2 separate regions of the Homo sapiens genome follow, and region 2 is linked to region 1. Evidence: fine-mapped expression QTL. Tissue or cell type: cerebellar hemisphere. Region 1 holds a variant in brackets; the other region holds the start of a gene. All regions are shown on one strand. Distances are between the middles of the regions.

Evidence for each region. PIP is the estimated chance that this variant, and not a neighbour inherited with it, causes the effect.
Region 2: it holds the start of CRIM1, and the variant in region 1 is fine-mapped to the expression of CRIM1 in cerebellar hemisphere (GTEx, PIP above 0.99).

Annotation. Positions count from the first base shown.
Region 1 is chr2:36,580,217-36,588,480 of GRCh38, forward strand. FEZ2 (fasciculation and elongation protein zeta 2) reads right to left here. Exons shown (of 8, transcript NM_005102.3): 3 at 3,137-3,253; 4 at 1,074-1,215. Among named protein-coding and RNA genes, the nearest start is that of FEZ2, 14 kb to the right of the region's middle. The variant T/C (reference allele first, on the strand shown) is at 3,227.
Region 2 is chr2:36,352,211-36,360,210 of GRCh38, forward strand. CRIM1 (cysteine rich transmembrane BMP regulator 1) reads left to right here and starts at 3,568. Exons shown (of 17, transcript NM_016441.3): 1 at 3,568-4,413. The coding sequence starts at 4,083. It overlaps CRIM1-DT (CRIM1 divergent transcript), which reads right to left and starts at 3,360. Exons shown (of 2, transcript NR_037631.1): 1 at 2,878-3,360; 2 at 2,539-2,771.

The DNA.
Region 1 (8,264 bases):
ATTTGGGAGTCAGGACGTTAACACTGTTTAGCCCATACCTACAGGAACATGGCCAAATCAGACCATCTGAAAGAATTTGGTCTGTCTGACCATCTGTATGTTGAAGCCATACAACCCAAAGGTCTTTAGGTAACTAAGCTTTGGACTGGGCATGCCATAAAGATAAAACTAGGTGACAACACGAGTTGAGCAGATACAGACCCCATCAGTGCCTATTCAAGGAAGGGACCAGTCATATGGCAATGATTAGATACACACCTTCCAACCAGCCTCAGGCTGTTCACAGGCTGGTTATATTTATTCAGACATTTTTCATGAAAATCAACTGTAGAGTTTCTAGAGTTCATTATTCTCACATATGTCAAACAGATCCATGGTTCCCAAAATTCTTCATAGTAACACACAAGACTATTTGTACAAACAGGAATTGCATTTGACAAATAATTACTGAATATCTATTCTACACTTCAAATATGATGGGGTTTCTTATAGACTCAATTGTGTCCTCCCCAAAATTCATGTGTTGAAGTCCTAACCCCAAGTACCTCAGAATGTTACAGTATATGGTCTTTAAAGAGGTAATTACATTAAAATAAGGTCATTAGGATAGACCCTAATCCAATATGATTGCTGTCCTTGTAAGAGGAAATTTGGGGCCAGGCAATGGTGGCTCACGCCTGTAACTGCAGCACTTTGGGAGGCTAAGGCGGGCGGATCATGAGGTCAGGAGTTCGAGACCAGCCTGGCCAACATGACGAAACCCCGTCTCTACTAAAAATGTAAAAATTAGCCAGGCGTGGTGGCGGGCACCTGTAATCCTAGCTACTTGGGAGGCTGAGGCAGAATTGCTTGAACCCGGGAGGCACAGGTTGCAGTGAGCTGAAATCATGCCACTTCATTCCAGCTTGGGCCAAAAAGTGAAATCCCGTCTCAACAACAACAACAAAAATGTAAATTTGGACACAAACACAAACAGAAGGAGGATGAAATCAAAGCTTTCTGGAGATGATCATACTATACATTTGATACAGACAAAAAGCACAGAAATCATTGATTTCAGCAGGCTCCCTTACTCTCTTCATAACTGCCGGTACTAGACCTCTTGAGAGTTTGAATTTCCTGGGAAAGCATTGAAAGCCGATCTGACTGTGTAGGGGTTTCATCATCTTCTGGGTCCGGTGATTCCTGCATCATTTCTTCAATTTCTTCAATAACCTTCGAAAACACACACACCACTGTTAATCAAATATACAAAAGGAAAATGATCTATCTGGAACACAGTGCTCACCTAAGGCACCCAGAGCAGAAATGCACTGAATTCTCCATTAACCAATGGTGTTCAGGTGTGGATGCTCCAAATAATCAAAATTTTTACTGTAGGAGTGAACATGGTTTATCAAGAAAAAATTACAATATACTAAACACAAACCTAAATAGAATTGGATTTACTACGTCCATCATGATTCAGAAGGCCCTAACATGTCTTGCAAAGTCTAGGTAATCGTGCTACAAACACATAATAATTTACTTCAGACACACCAGAGCTAGATCATACAGTAATCGTTAGAAGAAAGCAAATAACAGAAAATTTACCATAGACATACAAGTGCTCAATTTAAAGGTATCTCATCAAAAATTCTGACATAAAATTTATAAAATACAATAGCACAAAAAAAGTATATATAAATGGGAAATTACCTCTATGACAGCAAAATATTCTTTCAACAGCAGAAAAATAATTTTATATATTAATTCAACGAAAAAAAGGGATTTTTTAAATTACTCAAAAAGTAGAAGTCCAAAGAGAAAAATGCTGTGAAAAGCAGAAAAACTTCAGAAATACATTTGACTTTAAACAATGATCTACTGTCTAGTGCAGTGCTGCTCAAATCTTACAACAGTATCTTGCCCTTTTCCAGATTCTAAAAGTTGAGAAGGATATAGAACTCAGCGAAAATGTAAAGGAAACCCAGGAAAATTACTCAATAGTTAGAAAAAAGGACCTAAAGTTAAAAAAAAAAATTAAACACAATTAAATGAAGGAGTAAGACATCATGAGCATATTTCCATGCTTTATGAATTAACAAGCTTAACAGGTAAGATTTCCACCAAGGAAAAACAAAGGCAAATCTGAAGGAGATGGGATTATGTTAATTATAAGAAGAGTCTCCAAAACAGGAAATATAATAAGGTACAATGAGCCACTCAAGGATCCTACAGAATCTGTTATTCTAACTCTTAAAAAAAGGGAGAGTTTACGGTATTAGGCAGGTCAGTGAGGGGACAATGAATTCTCAAGGTCATGTCTATCCCTAGATTACCCTCTACCTCAAAACAACCTTCCAACCTACTATTACCTTGCTTTTTTAAGCACCACATTCTTCCCACGCCTAGAACAATTCAACCACAAATATGACTAAGGAGGATCCAAATAACACAATTTTAATGTAAATTTTTAATGTACTCCTCCCAAGCTTGCCATAATGTATCTCCTTACTGATCTCATCTTTCCAGCCTAAAAATAGAGTGTGGTAGAACTCACAGTCCGAGTAGCCATGGAACATTTTATTTCAGGAAGAAGTTCTGGCATCACATTTCAACAATACAACAGAGGTGGGAAGAGTATTCAGAAAATGAGAAAGCTGATTCGACTGGTTTTAAGTGAATACAGGGTTGACCTTATTAGCGCATTCCACGGGAATAATGCTCACTTCTTTCTGGGGCACACAATATGTTACTTTAATACATGCTAATGCTTTTTACCCAGGGTTTTGAAGATACTAAATAATTTCTACACAGATACTTTACAGTTTGTCCGTGTTTGGGTAAATCTAAAGAAACAAGGAAATTCACAATATTTTTCTGGTTTGGGGTTAAGCAACAACCTTTCCTTGGTACCTTGCTATAATCTTCAACAAGGCCTCTGTTGGAAACCTTCCCAACTAACATAATCCCTTCTGCTTCAGATCACAAATACTTATTTTTCTCTGTGGAAGAGTTAACTATTAAGCCTGTATAACCAGAAAAAAATAGGAAAGATAAGTAAACCAACAGCCATCATTTACTGTCATAACAAGAAGCCGTTTTTCAGCTCTAGAGTCTCCTTTCCTTGCGTTGCTGAGGATCTCCTCTATACCTGGTCTGCCGTGAAGAGGGGTTCATCATTAACACAGGAGACGATGATTGAGTGCATATCCAGCTGTTCTCTCAGCTCTTCATCATCTGA[T/C]GTATCAAAGAGCAAACTGTCACTTACCTAAAAACAAAAATACCCATCATTAAAAGCAGGACATCCTCATCAAAACAAAGTTAACAGCTCTGAGTAAAAGAGGCTGCAGAGAAAAGCAACTACTAAGAGCCTTCCCTCAAGAGGGAGAAATTATTACAATCACTCTGTACCAGGCAATGAGTATATATTCATCTTGAACAGAAATGAGAAGAATGTAGAATAAATATGAAATCACTGAGATGCTGCATAAGACTGCTATAAAAGCTGACAGATATGCAGAAAAAAATACGGTATTCATTAGCAAGTCATAGGGAATTACAGTGAATAGAAGGGAGAATATGGGCAGGGTTAGCAACACACACTAAGATTGGTAGACGTTAACATTCTAAAGAAAACATAAAAGTTAGTTACTTGCAAACTAACTTCTAATATCTGAGTAAAAGATGATCAACTCCCTGAAAGGCGGGATCTGTCCATGAGCGTCACACTTAGCCCTTCCAATTGCACATTCCTTCTTAACAAAAAATAATAACCCTAGGTTCCAAAAACATCTTTAAACCTAACTAAGCTGGTGATTCACCACTCACCTCCTCACCATCTTCCACCCTGCTCTGCGCTCCAGGAGGACGACCTTTATGGAAGACATCAAAGGATGCCCTTGCTGTCTGGCTTCCAGGTGGGTTAAACCCCATTGGCAGACACTGGCAGACTGGAAGGTGGGATGGTGAAGGCTGGGCATGTATTTTGCTGTCTTCCTCCCTGTCAGACTGTCATTTGTTGACTATGGCTCTTCACCAAAGCCATAGCTCTGATTAGCAGACTTCTCCCACAAGGCCAATCTCAACAGTTTATGGTAATTTCTCCCTCTCCTTACCTCTTCATGCCCAGGACTGCTAAAGTACCAGTTTCTGTTGCCAGCCCTGGGGGATTGCACCACATCAAGTTTGTTTCCCTTAACCCTGCCCACACCAATATAAACAGCCTTAGAGTTTAGTACCAGTACTGATTGTAAAAACTTTGCCTGAAAAAACTCAGCAGATTAAAATGAACAAGGGAACATCTGTCTATCATCTACCTATCTGTCATGACATGACTATTCAGGTGTTGAATGGAACTGAAACTAGAACTCTATTCCTCAGGAAGGATTAGCACACACTGAGTTTCCAAAGAATAAATGGGCAACAAGGATTACGTAAGAAGCCACCATGTCATTCTATTACATAGTGTAGAACTAACATGATAAAATTTTACCTGGCAAAATTATTTATCCATGCAGAGGATATATGTCTAAAGCTGAGGACACAATGGAATGGATGTAGGTTCCTACTGCTTCCCTAGTTCTTCATAACATGAGCATCTGAAGTTTGCAGGTGAACACAGCCTACAGAGTAAGAAACCTGCACGTGAGAAGGGCCAAGGGAAGAAGCACTGGCACACTGACTTTCCAACATTAGGCTGGGAGAAGGGCCCCATCAACACTGCACGGTCCACCTACAACCCTATAATGCAACTCCAGGCTCCTGCGCAGTGACGACAGCCCTTCTCATTTTATTTCTTACTGCACCATCAGCCTAGCAAAGGCCTGGCCATGACCTTCAACACAGCATCATGAACTAAGAACACTGTGTGGAAAAAAGGAGAATCTAAAAGCTTCCAGGGAGGGAAAAAAAAATCACATTAAAAGGATCAGGAATCAAAATGTCAAGTGAATTCTCAATAGCAACAATAGATGCTAGAAAATAATCGATGTAACTTCCATGTTTGGAGAAATTCCATCCTAGAATCCTATATCCAGCTAAAACAAGTAGGCAGGGGCTAGGATAAAGACATTTTCAGACATACAAGTTCTGAAAAAATTTACCTCTCATGTGCCCTTTCTCAAAAAGCTACCAGGAGGAAAATGAAAAAGAAAAAAGATATGTGGTCTAATAACAAGTGACAAAGAGAATTCTCGTAATGATAGTAAAGTGAAAATCCCAGAATGATGACTGTAAAGCTACACTAGAGAGTAACATTCAGATTAGAATTTTTATTGCAGAGAGCATGGAGAAGAGGGAGAGGTGGGTGGGGAGGGAGAGCAGAAGGACTAGATAGATTACCTAGTGCGGTCCATTTACTAAAATGAGTTCTACGGCTCTATTGAGGCTGAACTGGTCAGCTAATTATAAACTAAATAAACCACAAAAAGGCAGGTAGTATCCTAAGAAAAAACCTAAGTAGAAAAAGAGAAAATGTAAACATAATATATCATAATGGGTCAACTGTGCACATTTAAATAGTAAATATAAATGATGAAGATTAATTCAACCCCAGATGTTATGTAATTACATTGGGAAGATGGGGAAAGGGAAGTTTTTGGGAGGGTATAGTGTCAGGGATTGGCAAAGGACAGAAGAGAGCTAAACCTTCACCCTCTGGGTAGAAAATAAATAAAGTCTAAAATTGAGAAAATAATATCAAGTAAAATGGCATGAGCATGTTATCTGCTAAAAGAAATAGCTGATATCATTTAAAGTGGCCACCTCTGGTAAGGAGAAATCAAGTGGAGCAGAGACTGCCTTTTCATTTAAGTCCTATAGTTCTAATTTACTTTTTAAACTATGACAGCTGTTCCTTTAATAATTTAATTTTTTAAAGAAGGAGAAAGATCAAGAGACTAGGCTCTTGATGAGAGGGGATGTATGATTTCTATACTGTAGAAGATGAAAATGTGGCACACTGTGATCACAAAGGCATGTCGATACCATGGAGTAGACCTACCGATTAGTTTCATCGATCCTTACACTTCGAACACTTCACACCCCCTTCCCAATCACTCTTCCTATGTTGCAACTTGAGGACCATGATTTTGTTTTATTTTTCCCCTTCTGGCTTATAAATACTAAAAGTTTTAATTTTAAAATTAATCCGGGGTGGGCACAGTGGCTCATGCCTGTAATCCCAGCACTTTGGGAGGCTGAGGCGGGTGGATTGCTTGAGCTCAGGAGTTTGAGAACAGCCTGGGAAACATGGTGAAACCCCATTGCTACAAAAAATTAGCCAGGCATGATGGCACATGCCTGTAGTCCCAGCTATTCAGGAGGCTGAGGTGGGAGGATCACTTGAGCCCAGGAGGTGGAGGTTGCAGTGAGCCAAGATGGTGCCACTGCGCTCCAGCCTGGACAACAGAGCCAGACCATGTCTCAAAAAAAAAAAAAAAAATTACTCCTAAGGAAGCCCAGGTTGCCATGGCTCACACCTGTAATCCCAACACTTTGGGAGGCCAAGGTGGGAGGATCTCCTGAGGTCAGGACATCAAGACCACCCTGAGCAACACAGGAAGACCTCGTCTCTACAGAAATATATTTTCTTAAAATTAGCCAGGCATGGCGGTACTCGTGTGTAGTCTAGCTACTCAGGAAGCTGGAGCGGGAAGATCGCTTAAGCCCAGGAGTTGGAGGCTGCAGTAAGCTATGATGGCGCCACTGTACTCCAGCCTGGGCAACAGAGGGAGACACTCTCTCAATCTATCAATCAATCAAATTGCTTCTGTGGAAGACATTATCTTTTTCTTATTTCTACTCTTAAAGGTATAAAGATGCATACAAAAGTCCCTGTCCTGAAAGAAATGCACATGGAAGGAGAAATACAGCACAGAAGATGTTCTTAAGCTGAAATGAATGATAAGCATTCTATCATATAAGTATATTCAAGAATGGCACCAGATTTAGAATAGGGTTATGGCCAAAACACATGAGTAATAACAGTAAACTATTATAATAAATTTCCATGACAACAGAAATGATCCCAGATCATCTTTCCAGAGAGAGAGCCAAGTCCATTCCCCACAGAGATGGCATATGCTAAGAGCTGGAATATCTTTCAGGCTTTGCAAACTAGCCCTGGCTGTCATGGGTATCATTATTCACTCCTCCCTTCAGCATTAAATGTGCCTTCTCTTTGCCAAGCATTCCCATCACTCCTTCCAATGCCAGGGTTAGATACAGACCTGGTGGTACTGTTTCCCTGTATAAAACTGAAGATACATCAAATGGAAAAAATGTGCCCACGTAAGAATTTGAAAGATACCAGTTGCCTTACTCTAAAAAAGACATATCAAATTTAGAAGTGTGCCATCTTAATCTTCAATCAAAGAAAAATTTAAAACTGCAATCTAGCAAACTAGTTTTCCTGAATGTTTTTCTCTTTTTAATGCAAAAACCATTCTTCTTTTGTCAAAAAAAATTTCTATACACTTGGTTTTATAAGTAAAATAATCTAAAGAATGCTTTCAAAGGGTAAATTTTACATAGCTTAGTCACGGCACGAACAGAGCACCAGGTGGCAATGGTAAATACAGTCACTTTGCCAGATTAAAAAAAAAATGCTTAATTATATACCATGTAATAGAATGACGTGATGACTTCTTACATAGTCCTTATTGCCCATTTGTTTTTCAGAAACTCAGTGTGTGCTAATCCTCCCTGAGAAACAGAGTTCTGATTTCAATTCTATTCATCACCAGAATAGTCATGTCACAACAGAGAGATGATAGGTGAATGATCACGTGTTCACTTTCATCTGCTGAGTTTTTCCAGGTAAGGCTGTTTTTTTTTTTATTTTTTGAGACAGAGTCTCGCTCTGTCACCCAGGCTGGAGTGCAGTGGCGTGATCTCGGCGCACTGCAACCTCTGCCTCCCAGGTTCAAGCAATTCTCCTGCCTCAGCCTCCCAAGTATCTGGGATTACAGGCATGCGCCACCACGCCTGGCTAATTTTGTATTTTTAGTAGAGACGGGGTTTCACCGTGTTGGTAAGGCTGGTCTCAAACTCCTGACCTTAGGTGATCCATCCACCTCAGCCTCCCAAAGTGCTGGGATTACAGGCATGAGCCACCGCGCCCAGCCAGGTAAGGCTTTTTAATGTCAGTACTAGCATTAAACTCTACGTCATTACTAATCACTGCCTTGGCCATATCATTACCGTGGCATTGAAAATAACATTCAAAAGGCAGCAAAAGGGAGCAACCTCCCAAGATGCAATCTAAGAACAATACAAGA
Region 2 (8,000 bases), 230 kb before region 1:
CAATAGAGGGCAGACGATCTCTTCTTCTAGACCTCCATCAGAAATACTTCGTAATTCCTGGTTCGTTGCAGACCTGTTCCCCAACCCCTCCCCCACCCCCCCACCACCCCCACCCCAAACTTCGATGACTCCCTCCTGCCCATACCATCCCTTTCAAGTACTGATTTTGAGGTATTTACTAAAACCAAGAGAGAAGGGCTGCAGACAATAATATTCAAATATCATTTTGACTGTAATTCTTCACTCTCCCTTTTTCAACTCATTCATGCATGCATTTTTATAAATCCTGCCCTCTCCAATAAGCTGACAAGCTAATTGGGTTCAGAGTTATTTAAATAACTATAATGTAACATGATAAATGCTACAAGCAGAGGTACTTACAAATGCTGTAGAACAGATAAAGAAGCTCAAGAAGGCTTCTCAGAAAGGGAGGCCTTTCATGTGTGGCTCTAATTCTTAACATTCGTTCATGACTTTCAGGGTCCATTCAATTTCAGGGTAATTCTTCCTAGTCCACTTTCACCCGTGACACCTGATTGTCATCATGTTGGGCTCACCCAAACTCTTTCTGTAACCATAGTCTGGTCTTTGAAGATAAGAAAATACTTTTGTATTCGAGCCTCAGTATCATTGCCTCAGCTTCTCACTACCTCATTATCATCCCTCCTGGATCCCAGAGAAGAAAGAGCTGTTTCATAACTGAGCTCCTGATTCACACACTGGTTTCAGAAAAGCTGCCAGGACCTTGCAGGTTTCTCATTCGCCACTAGTCACTGGCTTCAAGGAATCCTATTTTCTCTATTGCTTCTATGACTATTAATTTTATGCCAAAGGGCATGTGTAATGTAACTTGATTTTTTTTTTCTTTTTGAGCTGATACAATCATCTTCATCTTAAAGAATCTCCCTAGTCCTTTCTAAACCTGACTTGAATTCCTGTGAGAAGTCAACCTTTCTCATGTTGTATCTGTCCATCTACCTTCCAGGTGGTTCTACTTCTGAAGTCCCAGGAACAATGAATAGTCATCTCCAAATTATCCTTTGCCTGTGCTCATCTGTAGCTTTCCTTAATCCTTAATATATCCCCTTAAAAATAAATAGAAGCTAAACTTTGACAATGCTTATTACCTCCTTCTTTCCTAACCACAGTAGCTTTCTCACTTCTGCCTTTTTCTCATCACCTGACCTTGGCTTTTCCTGCAGGTCCTACAATGTTATCTGCTACATTTTAATGTCTTTATACTTGCATTTGAACAGAAATACAGATAACCTCCTCTGCAAGAGTGGGAGGGACCTTTTAACACAGAGCAATGATGACAGTTTGTTGGCAAATCCCACACTGAAGTGCTGGTGCCTTGTTCGGTGACAAGAAAGAACAATGTTTAACAATGTGTGTTTTATTTTTCTTCAGTTTTTTTGTTTGTTTGTTTTTGAGACAGAGTCTTGCTCTGTCGCCCAGGCTGGAGTGCAATGACGCAATCTCGGCTCACTGCAACCTTCACCTCCTGGGTTCAAGTGATTCTCCTGCCTCAGCCTCCTGAGTAGCTGGGATTACAGGCATGCGCTACCACACCCGGCTAATTTTTGTATTTTTGATAGAGACAGGGTTTCACCATGTTTCACCATGTTGGCCAGGCTGGTCTCGAATTCCTTACCTCAAGTGATCTGCCCACCTTGGCCTCCCAAAGTGCTGGGATTATAGGCATGAGCCACCACGCCCAGTCTCTTCGGTTTTTCTAATAGAAAACCTAGCATATTTTAAACGATTTTGCCACTTAACACTTATTATGGACCCACAGGGTATGAGGGCCTTTGGAGATCATCTAATCGGACTTCCCACCCAACTACAGGAATCATTTCATTGCAACAACTCTTTAAACCCGTCTAGAAAATGCAATGCTCTCTCCCCTTTTCCACGGTTGAACATCTTCCTCATGGCCCTATAATAATCAATGATAATTAATGAGCCTCTTCCTCTCCTTGGACAAAGAAATATGATAGGAGAAATGTTTAGTTTGCTGATGCCCATCATGGGGGAATAGTCCACTGGTAACTCTGGCTTTTGGGTTCAGGATTAGACAGAGTGGTTAAACTAAAATATTTATCGTAAGTATGAATTTGTTCCACAAACATAACATTTCAAAGGTAGCTTTGTTTCCTCTTTCCTTGCACTGCCAGCTATTAACTTTCGGTTCATTAGTCACGATTTTCAGAATCCACTTGGCTGCCACCTTCCTGCAGCCAGACCATCTTGGATCAGAGGGTGGGCCAGCCATTCCCACGTCACACCTGCCACGGGATCGATTTTTTCCCCCATTGACCACAGTCACTTTTTGTCAATTAATTAATGTTATTCACCTGGTACCCATCTTGTGAATGGTAGGTCACTACGGAGCGGATTACTACTTCATATCCCATCAATGACAGAGCCATCATTACGAAAACCTTTTCTGACAACCACTGAAGAGAAACCATCTCCACACCGTGCATTTTGCATCACTTCCGTTGCTTCTTTACCTGATTTATCACAAAGACTATGTACCACACATCTTCTTTATTAATGCATTGACAATCAGTGAAGACAATGAAAACCCACCACTTTTGTCCGTGAACTGAGAAAGAAAATGGCAATGTCATATGGCATTAATGATGCATGAGATCTATGGGTGTAGTGTCACGTCTAGGCGTGTAGTAATCCAGTCTTCGGCCTTACTCCAGGGAGAAAGATTCAGCTTTGTTACTTTCCAGTCACTCTCTCCCGTAACACAGCACCTTGGCACAGAAAGCAGAGCGACAAAACCCAGAATGAGGACAGTTAAAATTCAACTCAAGCTACAGCCATCCCAACGGTCCTCCCCAGCTCCCGCGGAATATTTACCAAGACCGTTTAAAGCACTTAATTAATTCACTTCAGCTTCGCTGGAGAGGTCTCAGGGTTCCCGAGACTCCATTACATAATATCTTTCACAAAGTCTATTCCCAGCTCGAATGGAAGATGGATTCTCATCCAGTGTGCGGAGGTTCCATGCCTTTGCTTCCCTTTCCCGGAGTTCGATCCGGCGATACCCTCCCGAGGCTGCAGCCATCGCCCCGGCCCCGAGCTTCTGGGGTACCCGCCACTCTTCGAACTCCAATCTGGCCCCGAAGGTGCAGCCGCCTCGCCCTCCTGGCTCCCAGGCCGGCCGCTGCGGCCACGGTGCCAGCGAGCGCCCGGGACACCGCGACTCTCGCTGCTCGCTGGGTGCGCCCCAAGCCCATCCGCAGCGCACCCGCGGCGCCGGGGCCAGAGCCGCAGCTCGGTGGCACGGCCGGCTCGGTGCGCCGGGCTCGGGGAGGAGGAGATCGGGAAGAGGTGGAGGCGTGTGAGGGAGGGAGGAAGGGCCCGGCCGCCCGAGAGGGGGAGGGGGAGGCGGAGGGGGCCGGCCGGGCCGGGGAGGGGGGGCAGCCAATGAGCGGCGCGCGGCGCGTGGGGGTGGGGGGAAGGTCTGGGGGAGGAGGTAGGATGGGGGAGGGCGCAGCCCGAGCGGCTGAGGCTCCAGCCATAAACAAGCGCCCGGAGGAGCGGCGCAGGAGTGAGGCGAGCGGGGCGCGCGGAGCGGACGCCGCGGATCTTGTGCTGCGCCACCGCGCCCACTCGGCAGCTCGGGAGGCGGGGACCGGCCCGGAGGCTGCGCCGCTGCGGGGCCGGCCGACTCGGAGGAGGAGAGGGAGGAGGCGCCGCCGGCCCGGGCTGGAGCCGAGCGCAGCAGCCACCGCCGCCGCCGCGCCAGAAGTTTGGGTTGAACCGGAGCTGCCGGGAGGAAACTTTTTTCTTTTTTCCCCCTCCCTCCCGGGAGGAGGAGGAGGAGGAGGAGGGGAAGCTGCCGCCGGCGCCAAGGCTCGTGGGCTCGGGGTCGGCGCGGCCCGCAGAAGGGGCGGGGGCCTCGCCCCGCGAGGGGAGGCGCGCCCCGGGGGCCCCGAGAGGGGCGGTGAGGACCGCGGGCTGCTGGTGCGGCGGCGGCGGCGCGTGTGCCCCGCGCAGGGGAGGGCGCCCGCCCCGCTCCCGGCCCGGCTGCGAGGAGGAGGCGGCGGCGGCGCAGGAGGATGTACTTGGTGGCGGGGGACAGGGGGTTGGCCGGCTGCGGGCACCTCCTGGTCTCGCTGCTGGGGCTGCTGCTGCTGCTGGCGCGCTCCGGCACCCGGGCGCTGGTCTGCCTGCCCTGTGACGAGTCCAAGTGCGAGGAGCCCAGGAACTGCCCGGGGAGCATCGTGCAGGGCGTCTGCGGCTGCTGCTACACGTGCGCCAGCCAGAGGAACGAGAGCTGCGGCGGCACCTTCGGGATTTACGGAACCTGCGACCGGGGGCTGCGTTGTGTCATCCGCCCCCCGCTCAATGGCGACTCCCTCACCGAGTACGAAGCGGGCGTTTGCGAAGGTACGGCCGCCCGCTGCGGGCCCCCTCCCACCTGGCCTGCGCCGCCCCCTCGGCGCTGGTTGTGCCGAACAAAGTTTGGGCGAGACTTTCTGGAGGAAAGAGGGCTCTGCGGGAAGAGGGGCGGCCGCCGCCCCCAGGAGAGTGCCCCCGCGGCCCTGCGTTCCCTCTCCTTGTTCCCCCCGACGCTTAGGCAGTCGCGGGCGAGGTTGGGTATGGTGGGTGGGGGCGAGCGAGTGGAGGATCGCCCCTGTCCCCGCGCAGACGCGCACACGTGTGGCCGTTCCTGCTGGGACTGGGTGGCCCGGCCTTGCTCCCCGAGGTGGGGGCGCCGCGGGCGGGGGGCACTGCAGATTCTGCCGCGCGCGAGCCCCTCGGGGAGCCCGGCCCTACCGCCCTCCCCGCACTGGCGCAGTGTGGCACCGTGAGCCGCACGCCGGCCGCGAAAGTCCTTTTTCTGTTGGCGGAGGAGACGTGTCTCCAGCTCGCACTCCCCGAGTGACTCTTATTATTTTTTCCTTGAGCTCTTCCTTCACCCCTTCCTCCTCCTCCGCAGATAAATCAGTTTCAGCCGCGGAATATGTCAGCCCAGGGGAAGTTACACACGGTGGTTACTCATTTATTTGCCCATTGTAAACGGTCAAAGGCTTTCTCTCCTGAAAGGAAAGGGGGGTGGGGGTTGCACCTGGGAGTAAAAAGTTGTTGCTATTAGTGGCTGCTTTTTAATATCAGATACCCGCGTGTTTCCTGTCGTGTTGCCGGTTCCTCCTTTTTGTTTGTTTGACAGCGGGGATTGTTCTGCTGGCTTCTCCAGCACGCATTGTGCTCCGCGGTGTCGAGATTGACGGTGGGAGAAACAGATTAGATTAGTGGAGTCTTTCTCGTTGGGGAGCCAATGTTAGTGCGTGTTGGCTTTAATCCCTGCCCGCTTGCGTCGGCCTTCAGGGTGCCTGGTCTGGTTTGGGGTCTAGAGCGAGGCAGTGAGTTATTTTGATGTGGCTAACGGGGGCACGGTTCGGTAAGCATCAGTTAAAAGTGGGATCCCTGCTCTGGCTGACGTTGGGCTGATGATGCTGTTCCGGGGGCATCCTGGCGAGTGAGCAGAGCGCACGCAGCAGCCTCGTTTCTGGGGAGGCGGCGAGGAGGGACAGGCGCCCTCTGCCCGGCGTGCCTTCCTCACTACTCACAGCCAGCACCGTCCAGGGAACGGTTTATTCCGAAGCATCTTTGTGTGTGTTTGTTTAGTATGCTGGGATACTGAAAAAGGAGGTGACAGCCTTAAGGATAACAATGGACCTATTAAAAGGCTTCAGTGCTGTGATTCTCTCTAAATACGCACAGACACACACATAGGTACTTATTTATACCTGAATAGTTTGGGGTTTGGACAGTTCAGGAAAATAGGGGAGGGTTTTCTGGTTTGGAAGCTAGTGGGCAGTGATGAGTGAAGGGAACTCTTCTCAGAGGGGAGGGACTTGCTCTTGCTTTGCTGCACACGTAAGACATTGGGTTAGAAGAGATCATTTGCCTGAAGTACAAAAAAGCCTCTCACCTGGTATTGTCCCCTTTTATAACTTGTTTTTATGCCTTACCTCAAGAAAAATGGCCATGAGATTAACTTCTGATACCATTGTATGTGTTTTGACTTTGGGAATTCTGAATGACCTAGACTAAAAGATGCATCTTTGAACCCTGCCGCTTCAAGTGTATAACTTAATCCGGCCTCTCGTAAATCTGAAAAGAACAGGCGACATGAAACACAGTTAAATGCAGTGGAAACTGCTGTGTTCCAAGAAGGACTTTTGCAGGTTCTGAAGATTCTAACCCTTGTTTTGTTTCTTCTTAGTCTGTTTCTGGTGAAGGAAGTGCTCAGGGAACATTTACAGTAATCGAGTGTTGTGGCAGCAATATCCCATGTCACAGTATAGAGTTATTTTGGCAGTTTCGTGAGCCTTTCATTCCTCTGAAATGATGTGATCCCTCATAGCTTCCTTTTTTCTGGCAACACCCTGTGTGCTTGGTATTCGCTTTGAAATGCTTGGAAGGGTTTGTTGACATGATTATATCTCAATTAGTTTCTCTAGAAACACTTTTTATTTTACAGGCCTGTTTTCAACTATCAATATTGTGTGTCCAGGGCACTTCCTTTAAAAAAAAAAATACTGAAAACAGCAGTCAACTTGCATTCTAAATCTGTGAAACCAAAGTAAGGACAGTGTTACCTGGCATGATATAATGGTTGGATTTAGACAGATATTTTCAATCGTGTGTTTACAATTTCAGTGTTTTCACTTAACGACAAGATTTATGGAAAGCATGGGATAAGTGATACCCCAACCGCCCCCCGCCTGCCATTTTTAAAAAAAGAATTAGAGGAGCCTTCAGATGTCAGCAGTTACCTAGAAGGTATTGATTATCTCTTGTTTTTCTGTGAGTTTACAAGAAATTTCGGAATGGCCAGTGTTTCCCTCAGTTTCCATTTTTATTCAGAAATTCACGTGGTGAAGCATGGTTATCATAACTAACATGAATAGGAATCAATATATTTTATTCATGTTGAAGTCTCTTTTGCTGCAATTTTTGCACTAAAATGACCCCTACTGGTTGTATCTGTTAATGAAAACTCTTGAAAACTTATTTAATTGGCTACGTTGTAAAAACATATTGCATGTTATAGAAATATTATCATGACTAATCTCCCTGCTTTCGATGACATAATTTAAATACAAATTATATTCTCTGTTTGCCAACTTGCAGTAATTTTTAGCAGTGTTTACTCTCATACTGGCTTTGTAGGGGAAAAAAATTACGTTTTTAACTGCAGTTCACAAAATGAGTTAGATAAATCATGGGCAGAAATGGGCCCCTTTCAGCTTGTGGCTCACAGCCTTAGGTTTTTAAGGCATGCTGGTCTAGTTGGCTCTCAGTAAAAGTACATTGAACAAACGGAAGAACAATCCTATCCATAGAAAGAATGCTGAAGGAAAAAAAATATTTTCTGAATGATTAAATAATGTGATGAGTTGTGTCCTGTGCACCATGTGAGATGTGCACTTGGATTTCTTTTCCGCATTGTTTAGATTGTTATTAAATAAATTCTAATTGAATTATTCCTTTTGTGGTGGGGGCTGGGGGTGGTAAGTGCATTTGAAAAAATGAGCATGGAGCCTGATACCTAAAAGTTTTTCCTACTTTCTGTCAGTCTAGAAAGTGCTTTTTGGAACTTAGGAGAGTGCAGGTCTTTTTCCTCTTTCCATTCGTCTGCTAAGACCTCCTGTTGCTCTTTGCAGCATCCTAACTGGCCTGTTTTCTTGGCCAGGCTGCCTGCCTCCAGGAAAATCACCTAGAAGCCAGAGAAACAAGTGTGGATCCTGAACCCCTGAGAAAGAAATCTGGATGGAAGACATCTTTGGAGGATCGAAGGCAGAGTTTAGAAAAATTAATGAAGTGAGATTTTCTAGAAAGAAGATTTTGATTGGACAGTGAGAATTATGTTTTGAGCTAAGGGGTTGAGAGCCATTTCTTCTCCCATGTGTCATAGCGCTTTATGCTTCTATAAGGAGTGAGGCAAGGTGAGAGAGCATGACCAG